Regions from separate parts of the Homo sapiens genome. Here region 1 is linked to region 2. The links come from fine-mapping of genetic effects on gene expression. A gene starts in region 2. The other region holds a variant in brackets. All regions are shown on one strand. Distances are from middle to middle.

Region 1 (8,337 bases), 950 kb after region 2:
AGTCATTAAAGTATAGAAATCAAATAAATTTTAGTTCATCAAGTTCAGGGTGATATCCTGAGTTGAATGAGAGACTTCATAATGTTCTCAGTTCATGAACAGATGGTCCCCTAACATTTCGAAATGCTGATTAAGGTAGGTGGACTGAGTCAGATTAATCAAGGGTACCACATTGTAAATACTGTTATGTAGTTAGCAATCCTTGGCATCTAATTAAGTTCACCTTCTTTCAGGCTGGGCACGGTGGCTCATGCCTGTAATCCCAGCACTTTGGGAGGCTGAGGTGGGAAGATCACTTGAGGTCAGCAGTTCAAGACCAGCCTGGCCAACATGGTGAAACCCCATCTGTTGCGGGAAGTCAGGGACCCCGAATGGAGAGACCGCCTGGAACCATGGGCAGAACATAAATTGTGAAGATTTCATGGACATTTATAAGTTCCCAAAATTAATACTTTTATAATTTCTTATGCCTGTCTTTACTGCAATCTCTGAACATAAATTGTGAGGGTTTCATGGACATTTATCACTTCTGTAATAATACTCTTGTAATTTCTTATGCCTGTCTTTAATCTCTTAATCCCGTTATCTTCATAAGCTGAGAATGTATGTCACCTCAGGACCACTATTGTACAATAGATTGTAAAACGTGTGTTTGAACAATATGAAATCAGTGCACCTTGACAAAGAACAGAATAACAGTGATTTTCAGGGAATAAGGGAAGATAACCATAAGTTCTGACTGCCTGCGGGGTCAGGCAGAATAGAGCCATAGTTTTCTTCTTGCAGAGAGCCTATAAATGGATGTGCAAGTAAGAGGGTATCGCTGAATTATTTTCCCAGCAAGGAATACCGTGCGGAAGGAATGCATTCCTGGGGGGAGGTCTGTAAACGGCCACTCTGGGAGTGTCTGTCTTATGCAATTTAGATAAGGACTGAAATACACCTTGGTCTCCTGCAGTACCCTCAGGCTTACTAGGATTGGGAAATTCCAGCCTGGTAAATTTTGGTCAGACCAATTCTCTGCTCTCACCTGTTTCCTGTTAAGATGTTTATCAAGACAGTACGTGCACAGCAGGACATAGACCCTCATCAGTAATTCTAATTTTGCCTTTGTCTTGTGATCTTTATTGCCCTTTGAAGCATGTGATCTTTGTGACCTACGCCCTGTTCGTACACCCCCTCCCCTTTTAAAATCCCTAATAAAAACTTGCTGGTTTTGCAGCTCGGGGTCATCACGGTCCTACCAATATGTGATGTCACCCCCAGAGGCCCAGCTGTAAAATTCCTCTCTTTGTACTCTTTCTCTTTATTTCTCAGACCGGCTGACACTTAGGGAAAATAGAACCTACTTTGAAATATTGGGGCTGGTTCCCCCGATACCCATCTCTACTAAAAATACAAAAATTAGCCAGGCATGGTGGTGTACACCTGTAGTCCCACATACTCAGGAGGCTGAGACAGGAGAATCACTTGAACCTGGGAGGCAGAGGTTACAGTGAGCTGAGATCACCCCACTGCACTCCAGCCTGGGTGACAGAGCGAGATTGTCTCAAAAAAAAAAAAAAAAGAATAAGAAAAAAGTTCACCTCCTTTCCCAAGGCAAAAAGAAGCCCCATGGTTCTTAGGGAACTTGGCATGAGTAAAGCCTCTTGGGCATTTTACCCTTTGAGCATAAAATTCATGTTTCCAAATGATACTTCTGCACACAGGCAGTAGTTCCATAATAGGCTAAGAGCAGGTGTCCCTGAGTGAGAGTTCTCACAGTCTTGTTGCATTGTTAAAGGCTCTAGGTCAGGTACAGACCCATGGTTTGGTTGATTGCAATTCCCAGTAAAGAGAAAAAAAGCGTCTAGCATTGACGCTTTCAAGACTGCCTTCTATCCACCCCCCTACACACATACTTGTTTTTTTGTTTGTTTGTTTGTTTTCTGTTACTAATCTCATTTGGATTTTTTTTTTCCACATATAATTTTAGTCATAGTTAGTACCTGGTTTGACGGAGTAGATTGGTGTAACCGTGGTACTTTCCTGCATTCAGGAGAATCTGGGATGTCTTCCGTAAGTATGGCTTAGAGTGAGGGGAATGTGATTTGCCGTGTACATTGAGGGATTTCTCTTTTCAGTCCATAAATAAAAGACAGAAGGCATTGCACTCTTCAGGAAAGTCATCTTTAAGTCCTGCCATTTTGTTCATCGTAGGTGAAAACTTTGCTCTTCTTTATCTAGCCCCCGATGGAAAGTACCAAGGCTGTGATAATAATTGGAGTTTGAATAGTATTGAGCCTGTAGAAGAGAGATGAGTGGAGATGGAATAAATTATGAATTGTGTATTTATGAGGCAAAATGCCTGATTTTCCATATGTGATGGACAGTGTTCTTTTAGGTAAGAACTCAGCTATCCTTAGCTTCAAATGATGCTTAAAAAAAGGAAAAGTCCAAATTACATGATCCCAGCATCCCAGATAGACGCTTACTTAATGTTGGTATGCAACAAGTGTATACGCATGTCATGACCAATTACACAGATTCATGAATGAACCATTCTTATGTGACCTGAACTAAATCCAAAATCCCTCTGTGTAGTATAGTCACAGTGCTGTATTTTTAAAAAATTAATAAGAACCTAAACAGTATCTGTATTTAAGATAAGCCTCCTTTTCTTTTTGATATTCCAAATTCTCTATGTCTCCGTATTTTATTTTCATGATTATAAAAACACCACCTGCTTTAAAATTCCTGGCTTCCCCTTGTCTGCATGGTCAGGTGTCTAGCCTAGCATGGTTTGCAGAGCCTGTTGCAGGTTGTCGGTGTTCTTCTGAGCCTTGTGCCGCCTCCCTTTAGGAATGCTTGCCATGCACCTCTTTTTCACCCCAGCCCTCAATCATGCCTTGATTTAGAATGACCCATTTAGCCATTCTCAATTTTAGACACTCCAACTTTTAGTTTCCTAAATACATATTCTAGTTTTTCCTTCTGCAGATACAATGTGCTCCTTGCTAGGCTCTCAGCAGATTTTTGAGCTGCCTCTAAGTCAATTATCACCTTCTCAGAAGCTTCTCATTGAAGCCCCCTGCTTATTTCCTCCCCTTGGTTCCTATAGTACTTATTACTTCTTTTTTTTTTTTTTTTTTTTTGAGATGAAGTCTCACTCTGTCACTTAGGCTGAAGTGCAATGGCACAATCATGGCCCACTGCAGACTTGACCTCTTAGGCTCAAGAAATCCTCCCACCTCAGCCTCTCAAGTAGCTGGGACCACAGACACTACCACACGCAGCATTTTTTTTTTTTTTTTTTGGTAGAGATGGGGTCTCACTATTGTGCCCTAGCTGGTCTCAAACTGCTGGGTTCAAGTAATCCTCCTGCCTCGGTCCCCAGAGTGCTGGGATTACAGGAGTGAGCCACTGTGCCTGGCCTTGTTACATTTTTTAATTCTGTACGCCTCCCTGCCCCAAGAGTGACCTCTTAGGGCAGAGCTTATCATATTTCTCTGACTCCAGTTCTTTCAGCACAGGACTTAGTTCACAAAAGATGCCCAGAAAAACATTTTCAAGTAGCAATTCTGTATTTTAGGGGGCTTGGTTTGCAACCTAAATTAATCAGTTCCATTAGCTATCATAAAAACAATTTGGTCTAAGTAAGCAAGCCCTAATTGTACTTTGTGTGCTTTTAGTTAAATTCAGCCTCATTGAGAAACATTGGCTTTCTAAATGACTATTATGTAATAAAACAAGGCATTAGCAATCTGGATCAACATGGTATTAGGATTTTGCTGCATTTTGCAGAATTCTAAATTGCATATTTTTATGTCTAAATCTGATGTATTCAGTTAAACCACAGATATTAATGCCTTGCTAGTAGTACACGTGTGGATTTCTGCTCTTTTTCATTGGCTCTTTAGTATTCTAAAAACAAATATTTATGAGACAGTGTCATGAAAGTTTGGGAAACTTTAAAAATGTTAAAGAGCTGACAAAATGCATTACAGGTTGACATGCTAATGAAATTTAAGTGGTTTTTTTTCTTGCTAGAATTGAGCAATACTGTATGTTAACATTTATTCATTGTGCATTTGTAATGTTACAGGTACTATAAAGATAATAGTTTTGACAGCTCCTGCATTTTTGTTATCTAAGTTTTTTTGCATCTTATTACTTTTTTGAGGTTTCACTTACAGTAAAGTGTATACATCTTAAATGTACAGTTGGATAATTTTTACCTATGTGTATGTCCTGAGTGACTGCCACCTGGATCAATGTTGTTAGCACCCCAGTGCTCCCTGGTGCCACCTACTGGTGAATCATTCTCCGTACCCCTACTTCCCCGCAAAGGGTAACCACTCTTCTCACCTCCGCAGCA[C/T]GCTAATCATACACCATCACATTTTTGTGTGTGGCTTCTTTCATTAAGTATTACACACGTGAGATTTGTCTGGGTTGTGTGTTGAACAATTTTTCATTCCTTTTGTTGCATATGGTTTTTAACGACTTGTTGCTTATTAAATTTTATTTTGGTAAATAAGATTCATTATAAAGGGATGGCTCATGCCCATAATACCAGCATTTTGGGAGACCAAGGCAGGCAGATCACATGAGGCCAGGAGTTCAAGACCACCCTGGCCAAGATGGCAAAACCCCGTCTGTACTAAAATACAAGATGGCAAAACCCCATCTCTACTAAAAATAAAAAAATTAGCCAGGCGTGGTGGTGCACGTCTGTAATCCCAGGTACTCGGGAAGCTGAGGCATGAGAATTGTTTGAGCCTGGGAGGCAGAGGTTGCGGTGAACCGAGATTGCGCCACTGCACTCCAGCCTGGGTGACAGAGCAAGACTCTGTCTCAAAAAAATAAAAAATAAGATTCATTATAAAGAGTAATACTCAGTTTGTGTCAGTTGGTCTGTGCTAATAATTTTATGAACAAGGCTATTGGCATTTTGCGTGCAGGATGCCAGCCTTACAGACCTAATAGTAACAGAACTGCTGCATATGAGAGCTGCAAGGCCCTTAGAGTTTGCAGAGTTCAGCCACCTTGCTTCTTTACGAGGACCTAAGGTTAATTGGATCCCAGGTCCCCCGAGTGATCTAGTTCAGTTGTCTTCTTGAGGTCACTGTTGCTGTGTCACAATTCAAACTTGATTATGTGGATGTCCATAGTCAACAGGAAAACAATCTTGGAAATTTAGAAATCCACCTGGGCATGATGGTGCACTCCTGTAGCCTCGGTTACTTGGGATGCTGAGGAAGATCACTGGAGCCCCGGAGTTGGAAGCCAGCCTGGGCAACAGAGCAAGACCTTGTCTCTAAAAGAAATTAAAAGAAAGAAGAAAATCTAGAAATCTCTAATTAGCAAGACTTGGAGTTTCAGTTATCTACAAGTTTCATTCACTCATCTAGAATACTTCCCTTAGTGTCAATTAAATGAGATGTTACTGACCGTTCATGGAACTTCGTCTTTTATTAAAACCTATTCTTAAAGGAAAAGGAAGGGGAAAATGTAACCAGTGCACATGTTTGCTATGGTACTTTCAGCTTTAGCGCACTGTCTTAAACTTTTGATGTTCCTAGATTTAGTTATTTTAAAGCCCTGTGAAAACCACAAGGATTGTTCTCAGTATGCGAGGTCTTAGGGTAAGTTCTGAGTCTGTGATCTCTGCAACTAAAAAACCAATCCCTAATCTTATACCTTTCTGCTAAGGTCGTAATGATTCACAGAAGTTTTGTAGAAAGGATTTTGAAGGAGAGATTAGTAGACTCAGCAATGGAACATTAAATCCTTTATAGGCCAGGAAGTAACCACAGAACGTTCTTCAGAATGTTAGAGCCTTCCTTAAGTATGATTAACAAACACAGGGACAAGTGGCTTGTCTTTTTTCTAATTATAACACACTGTTTTTCAAACAGGATTATGGTCATGAAATAAATTTGATGAGTAACAACTATCACTTTATATTCTTATATGGAAAAGCAGAAGGAACATCACAGCAAATACTCATCTACCTTACCCAGATTCAACAATTTAAAATGTTCTTATTTTCTTTGTTTGTGTTTGTAACCTGTTAAAAGTAAGTGATATACAGACACCAGGTCCCTTTCTTTTTTCTTCTCTTTTTTTTTTTTTTTTTTTTTTTTTTTTGAGACCAGGTCTCACTCTGTCACCCAGGCTGGAGTGCAGTGGCATAATCTTGGTTCACTGCAACCTCTGCCTCCCGGGTTCAAGCAATTCTCCTGTCTCAACCTCCCCAATTAGCTGGCATTACAGGTGTGCACCACCATGCTCAGCCAATTTTTTAGTAGAGATAGGGTTGGCCAGGCTGGTCTCAAACTCCTGACCTCATGTGATCCACCCACCTCGCCCCCCCACAATGTTGGGATTACAGGAATGAGTCACTGCGCCCAGCCTTCTTTTTTGTTTTTTGAGACACAGCCTCACTCTGTTGCCCAGGCTGGAGTGTAGTGAGTGTAATGGCATGATCTCGGGTCACTGCAATCTCCGCCTCCCAGGTTCAAGTGATTCTCATGCCTCAGCAATCCCCTGAGTAGCTGGGATTACAGGCATCTACCATCATGCCCAGCTAATTTTTGTATTTTTGGTAGAGATGGGCTTTCACCATGTTGGCCAGCCTGGTCTCGAAAGCCTGGCCTCAAGTGATCTGCCCGCCTCAGCCTCCCAAAGTGTTGGGATTACAGTCATGAGCCACCGCGCCCGGCCAGGGCACTTTGTTTCTAATATGTATCTGCAAACAAGGACTTTTTCTACATAATAAAATTAACAAAGGTAATTATAATTTCTAATATCCAGTTGTCCAGAAAATTAGGTAGCTGTAAATACAGTTACATTGTGTGTAGTAAAGATAAGTAGTATTTTACAAAACTTTTGTTTTAATTAGGTGTGTGCATGTATATGTGCACATACATAAGTATGTATATATTGGTAAACATGTATTTCTTTCTTGGATGTCTCATTCAGAATTTGTAATATACTGGGTTATGACATAGAGAAATTGGGTTCGTATATAGGTATTTGCTGCTCAGTGATACTGCGCGTTCTGTGCTGAGTGTTGTATGGTACCTGAGAAAGTGAATGCTTTCAGTAACTAGTAAAAAACCCAGCAAAGATGATAAAACAAAGAGGAACCCACCTAACAGTATATATAAGAGCCAAAATGGATCAGGAAGGAGAAGAAGTCCTTTGGAAAGGCCTCATGGAAGAGATCTTGAAGGAATGGTAGGATTTGGATATGACAGAGGCCTTGAGATGCTGTGTCCGGAAGGGAATGGTGTAAGTGTTGAGGTGAAACAGAAAGTCCAGAAATATGTTCATGTACCACAGTGCTGAGATCCACTTGGTGGATGGTGAAGGAAGGAGGAAGACATTGGAAGTTGAATAGGAAAAATTACTCAGGGCTTAAGTACCAGCAAGGGGAGGAATCCAATCTCTTTATTAAAGGAAGAATCGTTGAACATCTTAAGCAGTGTTTTAGTGTGATGGAAGTGGGAGTTTAGAAGATCAGTGTAATGACTTCCTATAGACTAGATGGAAGGAATAGAACACTGAAAACAAGGAAACCCAGTTAAACTGTTGCCCTTGCTATAGGTGAGATAGGAAATGAGGATGTGGATTAAGATAGATGGCCCTGAGGATAGCAAGGAAGGGTCAATCTGGAGAGAAACCACCAAGCCAAAAAAAAAAAAAAAAAAAAACCAGAATTTGGTGACAGTTTTAAAGAAGAGATGAAGGAGAGAGAACATCAATAAAATAATTATGCTGTTTACCCCTAAGGTCATGGAATTAAGTATAACCCAGTCCCCAAACCCCCAACATAATATCTGTAAAAACAAGCTTCCAAGCATAATTCATATTCATTCATTTTCTCTCTCTCCCTCTCTCTCTCTTCCCCCACCACCACTCCTTTTTTTAGAGATGGGGTCTTGCTGTGTTACCCAGGCTGGCCTCCAACTCTTGGGCTCAAACGATCCTCCTGGCTCAGCTTCCTGCGTAGCTGGGGCTACAGGCACATGCCACTGTGCCTGGTCATGCCATAATACTCTCAAAAAGTAGGCTAAGGAGGTTTTATAGAGGAAGTAGCAAGTTATAATCATTAGATATGTCTTTCTAATACGATTTTCTCTTGTTTTGCTTAAAGACTTGGAGGTGGAAAACGTTAGACATCTGTCTTTAGGGTCTTACTTCAGAGTCCTAGTTTTACTGAAAATAGCAATATAGAAAACTCATGACAATTATAAAAGCATTAAGAGCTGGCTGTTGAGAATGTAAAGTTTAGTTATTTTACATAAAGTACCTTTATACAAGTCAAATTAAATACTAGGTAAGACTCTGTAA
Region 2 (8,337 bases):
TGCGTAGGTTCTCTTGTAGGAATAAGTCTAGTCTTAATTACCTGTAGACTGATATTTAACAAAACAATAAGGGGAAAATTATTCACTATGAGGCTAGTCAGAATTATAATTGTCTTACACAGTTTAATTTTGTGACTAATGATAAGACCACATTTTTGTCTTAAAAAAATTTTTTTTTTTTTTGAGACAGAGTTTTGCTCTTGTCGCCCAGGCTGGAGTACAGTAGCATGATCTCGGCTCACTGCAACCTCTGCCTCCCAGGTTCAAGTGATTTTCCTGTCTCAGCCTTCCGAGTAGCTGGGATTACAAGCACCCACCACCACACCCAGCTAATTTTTGTATTTTTAGTAGAGACGGTGTTTCGCCAGGTTGGCCAGGCTTGTCTGGAACTCCTGACCTCAGGTGATCCACCTTCCTCAGCCTCCCAAAGTGCTGGGATTACAGGCGTGAGCCACTGCACCCGGCTCTTTTATCTTAAATTTAATACAATGTTATGGGCATAAGCAAATAAATGTTTAAGTCATCCTTTATTACTACCATTGATTTTTAAGAAGAGATTATTTCATAGGCATTTAATGGTAAATTTATATAAATTTCCTTCTGTGATCATTCCTGTGGCATTTTGGAGTTTTCATCCAAACAGACAAAATAAAACTTTATACTTGTGAAAAACATCCCATTACATGTCATATTTCAAGCTTTTTTTCCCCCCCCTACAATGCTTGGCTCATCCTTCATTATTTTTCTAAAGATTAGGAGCCGCATATTTAGGACATTTAAAAAAATCCAAGGACCAGACACAGTGGCTCACACCTATAATTCCAGCACTTTGGGAGGCCGAGGCGGGTGAATCACCTGAGGTCAGGAGTTTGCGACCAGTCTGGCCAACATGGTGAAACCCCGTCTCTACTAAAAATAAAAAAATTAGCCGGGTGTGGTGGCAGGTGCCTGTAATCTCAGCTACTCAGGAGGCTGAGGCAGGAGAATCACGTGAACCCAGGAGGCGAAGGTTGCAGTGAGCCGAGATTGTGTCATTGCACTCCAGCCTGGGTGACAAGAGTGAGACTCCATCTCAAAAAACATCCAAGAAATTAATATCAAGTATTCATTATGCTTAATTCTTTAAACACTAATTTCAAAACCAAAAATAAAATGAAATAGATAGGGACTATCTAACTTACACACAACCTCCCTTCCCCCAAAGAGTTTCCCTCAGAAATGTGGTTTTCAAGGCTGGGTGCAGTGGCTCACACCTGTAATCCCAGCACTTTGGGAAGTCCAGGTGGGTGGATCATTTGAGCTCAAGAGTCCAAGACCAGCCTGGACAACATAGTGAAACCCCATCTCTACAAAAAATACAAAAATTAGCTGGGTGTAGTGGCATGTGCCTGTAGTCCCAGCTACTTGGGAGGCACAGGTGTGAGGATTGCTTGAGCCTGGTAGGTCAAGGCTGCAGTGAGCTGAGATCACGCCACTGCACTCCTGGGTGGCAGGAAAAAAAATGTGGTTTTTCTAGGAGTTAATCACTGGTTAGCTAAGGAAAAGAGGCTTACAAACACTATTTACAGATGACTAAATCAATGATTGCTACCACGAGGTACCTTGGCCTAAAAAGAAGCAACCTTAAGATGGCAGAGAAAAGCAGGTTGATCATCCTAGCTCTTACACATGAAGAATTGTTAGCTCTTTTTATTGTATGCATACATCCTGAATAGACAGTTTGTGGTTTCTTTTAAATGATGCAATATCACGTTGTATTAAGGGGGCCTTCTATTTACTTTTCTTATCTTTTACAACCCAGGAGCGACACTGCAGGATTTCAATTTCCAAATGGTTTGGCAAGATGTAAATAATTATACAAATAGCTACAGTTATCCATCTACACTTTCCTCATTCTATTATTTTTTTTTAAAAAAAAGAAATGGGTTTAAAAACATGTATAGAGTATAAAAACAAAACTTGGGTACCCCAATAATCTCTTCCTCATGAAAAGTTACTAGTATCTTTTTGGCATGGTTTACTAAAACTTTAAGAGTTGAAATTTCCACCTGTAGTGCCTTTTCTTTTCTCCCCCTCTCTCCCTCTGCCTTTCCAGATCCTTTCCCTCCCTACTATGAGAGAGGAAGACTAAAATAGTATTGCCATGTTTCTCAGAGTAATAGAATTAATTTTAACCTTTATAGCACTTGTCCTTGAATTGACTATTACTTTAGTACAGAAGTAAAACTTGATTTAAGGGAATACTGCTTATCTATCCTGAGTGAGGTTCTGTATTAATTGCTATAGGGGTTGTAAATATGAACAAAAGTCTGTTTCTGACTTCAAAGAACTTTACAGGGTAATAGTAAACCTAAGAGAGAAATAATGATAAACACACTGACTTTTCTCCTTACAGTTTAGGCAGGTTCCATGGACAAAACCTCATTTGGTCCTTAAAACATTATTGTGAAGAAGATAGGACAGATACTATTTTCCAAACTCTACAAATGAGATAGAAATTTTAAAAATCCTGAAAGGATTGCAAATAACTAGATGGACAAATTGTTATTATAGCTAAATGAGTTCTAATTATATATGTGCATATGAGTATATATATGTGTGTCTGCGTGTATTGTGTGTGTGTGTGTGTGTGTGTATTCTGCTGTCATCACCTCCCATAGCTTATCCTTGGAAAGGAAGTACCTTGGCTTAGCAAAATATCTATCCCACTGATCTGTCACAATGTTTAAAATGTCATTTTAGAAATTCCAAACTCTGGGTGTCTACAGGAGGTAGAACAGTCTGAGAGAGAAATGGAAAAAAAAATACTAAACACTAATAATACAAAGTAGATAACTTTACTTCATAACTGAGCTCCTTAGATAATGACAGGTTGGGGCCAGGCATGGTGGCTCATGCTCGTAACCCCAGCACTTTGGGAGGCCGGGGCACAAGGATTGCTTGAGGCCAGGAGTTTGAGACCAGCCTGGGTAGCATAGGGAGAACCCCCCTCCACCCCCACATCTCTACAAAAAATCAATTAGCAGAAGTTGTGTCGCATGCCTGTGGTCCCAGTTACACAGGAAGCTGAGGTGGGAAGATTGCTTGAGCCTGAGAGGTCAAGGCTGCAGTGAGCCATGATCACGCTACTGCACTCCAGCCTGGTGACAAAACCCTGTCTCCATTTTAAAAATAAATAAAAAGAGAGAATGAAAGGTTGGTGTACCTGTCCTGAACAAAATGGGAAGAGTTTTGATGGGAAGGAAGAGAGACAGACTGCAGTAAAGCCCTGGACACAGCATCCTGAGGATCCCTGTAAAAGTGAGTATAGAGTGGGCCAGGCGTGGTGGCTCACGCCTGTAATCCCAGCACCTGGGGAGGCCGAGGCGGGCAGATCACGAGGTCAGGAGTTGGAGACCAGCCTGACCAACATGGTGAAACCCCGTCTCTACTAAAAATACAAAAATTAACCAGGCGTGGTGGTGCATACCTGTAATCCCAGGTACTCAGGAGGCTGAGGCAGGGGAACTGCTTGAACCCGGGAGGCGGAGGTTGCAGTGAGCCGAGATCACGCCACGGCACTCCAACCTGGGTGACAGAGCGAGACTCTGTCTCAAAAAAAAAAAAAAAAAGAAAAGAAAAGAAAAGAAAAACTGAGTATAGGGTGGAGGTGGAGTGGATGTTTATGTTTAAAAAGGGGGAGAAATGGACTCACTTCACAATTTTGCTTCCATTTATACCTAAACCCTGGGGCTCAGGGTTTCAGTTTCCAGTAGGCCTATGTTGGAAATTCACCTGCAAGGTACAAGTTTCCCTGACAGACCACCAAATAAACAATGGTCTTTTAAAAACAAATCAACTTTGGTACCATCTACTCAGCTGGCATTTACCTTCCTTACCTGCTACCAACCTCATTCTTAGAATTAAAGAAAAAAGGCGAATTCTAAAGCCCCTTCTACTCACTTTCCTCCACTAAGGCCATAGCTTACATCTGCTGCTCTTTTTTCCATACTCCTTTTTTCTCAACTCCTTTCTTTCATATTTGCCAGAAATTTAAGGTCGTTTGGGTTCCTCTCATTTAAAAAGTTCAACTGAAGTGTGTTGCTACACCTTAATCAAAAGTTTATGGCTGAGTTATTTAGCGTTTCTTTACCCACTTCCTCTGCTCAATCCTTCATCTCCTCATAACCATTGAAATGAATGCTATGAATATCTCAATGCTTAGCATGGTGCCAGGCATTTAGGTGTTGAAAAAAATGTTAAGCGAATATTAGTTATTAGGTAAGAGCATTGTCTGTAAAACTCTGAAAAGTCTTAAAAGTGATTCCTAAAATTTCACAAGCTCATAAATTCTTTAGTCTGCAATTATGATTCCTGAAATATTCTTCGATTCATGAAAGACTGGACTAGGAAATTCTAAAAATCGACATAAAGCATAAAAAGCCACTCTGAGGTTTATGAAATTTACAATGTTTTGTCTTCTTTTAATTCATTCGTACTTTTCTCTCAGGATACAAAGGGCAAAACTGTTTGTGTAGTAACTCAGAATTGAGTAGTTACACATCCATTAGGTTTCAGAATCGTTAAAATTTTATCTGGTTTAGGAAACTGCTTACCTTGGAAGGGCAAATTGCCATTTCTCTCCATCTGGGGATCAGGGAAGCAAGGGAAGCCCCCCTAAACATCACTTCCACGCTCCTATATTATGCTAAGGAACTTCTGGTTGATTCATTAGGCATTTCAGCAGTGTTTTTGGCCGGTACTAGGAACTGTGGAGAGGTATAGAAAGGGAGCAAGTGCACAGTCCCGGCCCCCAAAGAGGTTACGATGCAAATAGAAGCAGGCTCAGAACTCGGAACAAAAGCAGTGACTGCATAATAATGCACTGCTGGGGGTGGGGGATGGGGATCTGCACGCCCGGTTTGTGACTTCAGGAAAGCAGTTTCCAGGAGGTGAGAGTTTAAGCCAAACCTGAAAGAGGTTGATTTGTAATGATTTGCAGGGGGGCACTGGAGGCAGCCGCCAGGACTTTTCACTTAGGAGATCAGCATTTGCCCTGATGGAAACTGGGCGATCCTGCAGGGACTGACCTCTGAGTTATCCAAAGGCCGACCTGGGGAAAGACTGATTTTGAGGTTTTAATAGGTAAGTTTGGGGACATCATTGATGAAGGTGGGCAGGGAAGGAGGCTTTTTTCTTTTCTTTTTTTTAATGTTACAGTAAAAAGCTTAGATTCGATGAGACGGGTTAAAAAACAAATAGGAAAATTTAAGGAGAAGAATGACTATGATTGCTATGTAAAAATAAAATTGCAATAGAGAGGTTCTGGAGCTCAGGAAATGAGCTAGAGCATGCTATAATTTAGGCCTAGATAGTGAAGATCATGAATAAAATGGTAGCTGAGGAAATTTCAAAGTTGAATAAGTAGTAATAAGTATGAAGAAAAAGCTAAACTACAAACATCTGCTCTTTAATTACTAACACTAGTAATGAGAATTTGTCTCCAGCCTCTTCCCTTCCCACTCCGCACCTCTTCCTAGCTTACATCATTGTATTAAGGCATTTTATTGAAGACACTATTCAGCACTCTCCACCTATGCCTTACACAGCTTGCCTTTGCTTTTCTTCCCATTTCACTTTTTCTCTTCATTTATTCACATCATTTTAGTCCTTAAAAGACCCCGCCCAATTACTAGATCAGAGGGAGGCAACTAAGACTCTTCCTATCTCCCAAACGACCTTCCAGAATGGTTTTATGGCATTATAATAGGAAAGCAAGAGTTTTGATTTTTCTATTATTAATATTTTGCTTTCAAGGAATTACAGGAAAAACCATATTGCATGCCAGAAATACTTAAATTTTAAATATTTCATCTTAAGAGATGCCCTCATGTAATGCTTTTAATGCATTTGAGAAATTCAGGTGGTGGGCAAAAGTACAACATAGAGGTTAGATGTTTTGAGTGGGAGAAGTGCACTGGGGTCATTATTGAATCAGAATTATTATGCACTTAAATATATAGAAAAAAGAACAAAATGAGTATTAAACTATGCAAATTCATCCCTTTAATCTTTATTTGCATGACTACATTTTATGCAGTTGTAACCTTAATGTACATATTTGGTATTTTTTTCAAACATGAATTGATTAGACATTGTTGCTATTTTGTATCTATTTTGTTAACATAAGAACTTCCTGTGTTATATCAGATTTTTTTTTTTTTTTTTTTTTTCTGAGACGGAGTTTCGCTCTTGTTGCTGCCCAGGCTTGAGTGCAATTGTGGATCTAGGCTCACCACAACCTCCGCCTCCTGGGTTCAAGCGATTGTCCTGTCTCAGCCTACCGAGTAGCTGGGATTACAGGTGCCCGCCACCAGGCCCGGATAATTTTTGTATTTTTAGTAGAGACAGGGTTTCACTATGTTGGCCAGGCTGCTCTCGAACTCCTGACCTCAGGTGATCCACCCGCCTTGGCCTCCCAAAGTGCTGTGATTACAGGCGTGAGCCACTGCGCCCGGCCTCTATGTCAGACCTTAATTAGCCATTTCCTGTTAGTTAGAATCCTGTGCCGCTCCTTCTTGCCTTTTACGGTGTTTGGATAATATGCTGTGAATACCTTTGTGCACTCATTTCTTTATTCAGGTCATACCACTGAAACATACTCCCCAGAATAAAACTGATGATGAAAAGATAGGAACAATTTTATACCTTGTCTTACATATTGCAAGATTTTGCACTGCATTGATGTATTGTTAACTTTGCATGTTTGTCTTCTTTTTAAGCTCTCCTTGGAGAGTTTTTAAATTTTCAGTACACTCCACAGGGTGGCCAAAGTAGAACTGCTTTGTCATTGAGTATAGGTTCAGTTAAAAACAACAATCTGGCTCAGAGTTGAACACAAAGAATCCAATAAATATTAATGGGTTAATTTTCAGGTACCTTAGCCTTGACTTTCCTGTTTTCCAGATTTCCCCTCCTTTTCCTTTTCGGTATGTACTTCATTATTTAAATGGGCAATTTCGGGTTAGGCAGTTCTAGATAGCGGTTCCCTTCCTGTGCCCGTTCTGGAACCTCTCTCGCCCTTCTGCGGTGCGAAAAAACCCAATTCACAGCCGTCATCGCCACTGAAGTTACACCCAGGGGTCGCTTCAAGAAGGAAACGTTTTCTTTAAGAATTTCTATGCCAGTGAATTGGGGAAGGTTTTAAAGATAACGGAGTTTGCCACGCGTTTCTGCCAAACAATTCGACGTTGTGTAAATCGCAGAAATTCCAGGAAGGACTAACGACGTCCGTGGATGATTCTGCGGCTCACAGGCACACAGGACACGCTGGGTTTACCCTCCCGTGTCCCGACGGCACTACAGGTGCGAAGCCCGCCCGGGGAGGCAGTGCTTGTTGTTCGCGCAGACCCACTTGCGGCGCCGGGGACCGTCCGTGGCCCCGACCCCCCCACGAGGCGCGGAAGGCGGCCACCGGCAGGTTCTCGGTGCCCGCGAAGAGCCGGCGCAGGGGTGGGGCTGTGGGAGGGGGCGGGGCCTGCTGCGCGTCACGGCTGTCGTAGCCGCCGCACCGGGTCGTCGCGGCCGCCGAACCGGGGGGCGGGGGGCCGGGGTGAGCGCTAAGATGGCCGCCCCGGCTCGGGCTGGTGAGTGTGCGCGAGGGCGCGCGGCCGCGGCGATTGGCGGAGTGAGGACCCCTGCGGGAGCGGACGTGCGACGGCAGCCCCCGGGGCCGGGAGGCACCTGGGGGCCTATTCTCGCCGCGCAGGGCGCTGGGGGGTCCTGAGAGAGGGAGAGCCTGGGGCTGCGGGCGCGCGGAAGGGAATGAGCCGAGGGGCGCGCGGCGGCGACGCGTCCGGCGAATTTTGAATTGCCCCCCTGGGAAGTTTCGGTGGGTTCTGCGGCGCTCCGACCCTGTCCCGGCGGCAGCCTCAGAGTGCCCGGAGATGCTGCGGCAAGGCGCAGCGGGCTGGAGGGGGCGAGCTGGGGGAGAACGGGCGCGGGCGAGGGCTTCGGGGACTGGAAGGGGCTTCGCGCTGATCCCGGCACGAGCGTCGTGGAGAGGTGGGCGCGGGGCTGGCACGGGCTGGGCGCTGTGTGGAGCACGCAACGCCCGGGTCCAGCCGCATCCCTCCACCCTCCCGGATTACCGCGAGGTGATGCTCGAAGCCCCGGGGCACTTCGGGAGGGCGGTTGTGGCACTCGGTTGAGGAGGAATGCGCTTCCCGGCGTCTTGCCCGCCTTCTCTCCATCGATCGGTCCCCGCGCTGCCGGCACCTGCTGCCGCTTAAAGCTTGAAAATCAGCTTCCTAAAGCCATTCCCGATGGCCTTCGATGGGAAAGAATGCCATATGGCTG

Evidence for each region. PIP is the estimated chance that this variant, and not a neighbour inherited with it, causes the effect.
Region 1: its variant is fine-mapped to the expression of USP44 in fibroblasts (GTEx, PIP 0.96).

What each region holds. Positions count from the first base shown.
Region 1 is chr12:94,599,601-94,607,937 of GRCh38, reverse strand. All of the region lies in intron 1 of TMCC3 (transmembrane and coiled-coil domain family 3), which reads left to right. Among named protein-coding and RNA genes, the nearest start is that of MIR7844, 32 kb to the right of the region's middle. The variant C/T (reference allele first, on the strand shown) is at 4,358.
Region 2 is chr12:95,548,059-95,556,395 of GRCh38, reverse strand. USP44 (ubiquitin specific peptidase 44) reads left to right here and starts at 4,920. Exons shown (of 6, transcript NM_032147.5): 1 at 4,920-5,124.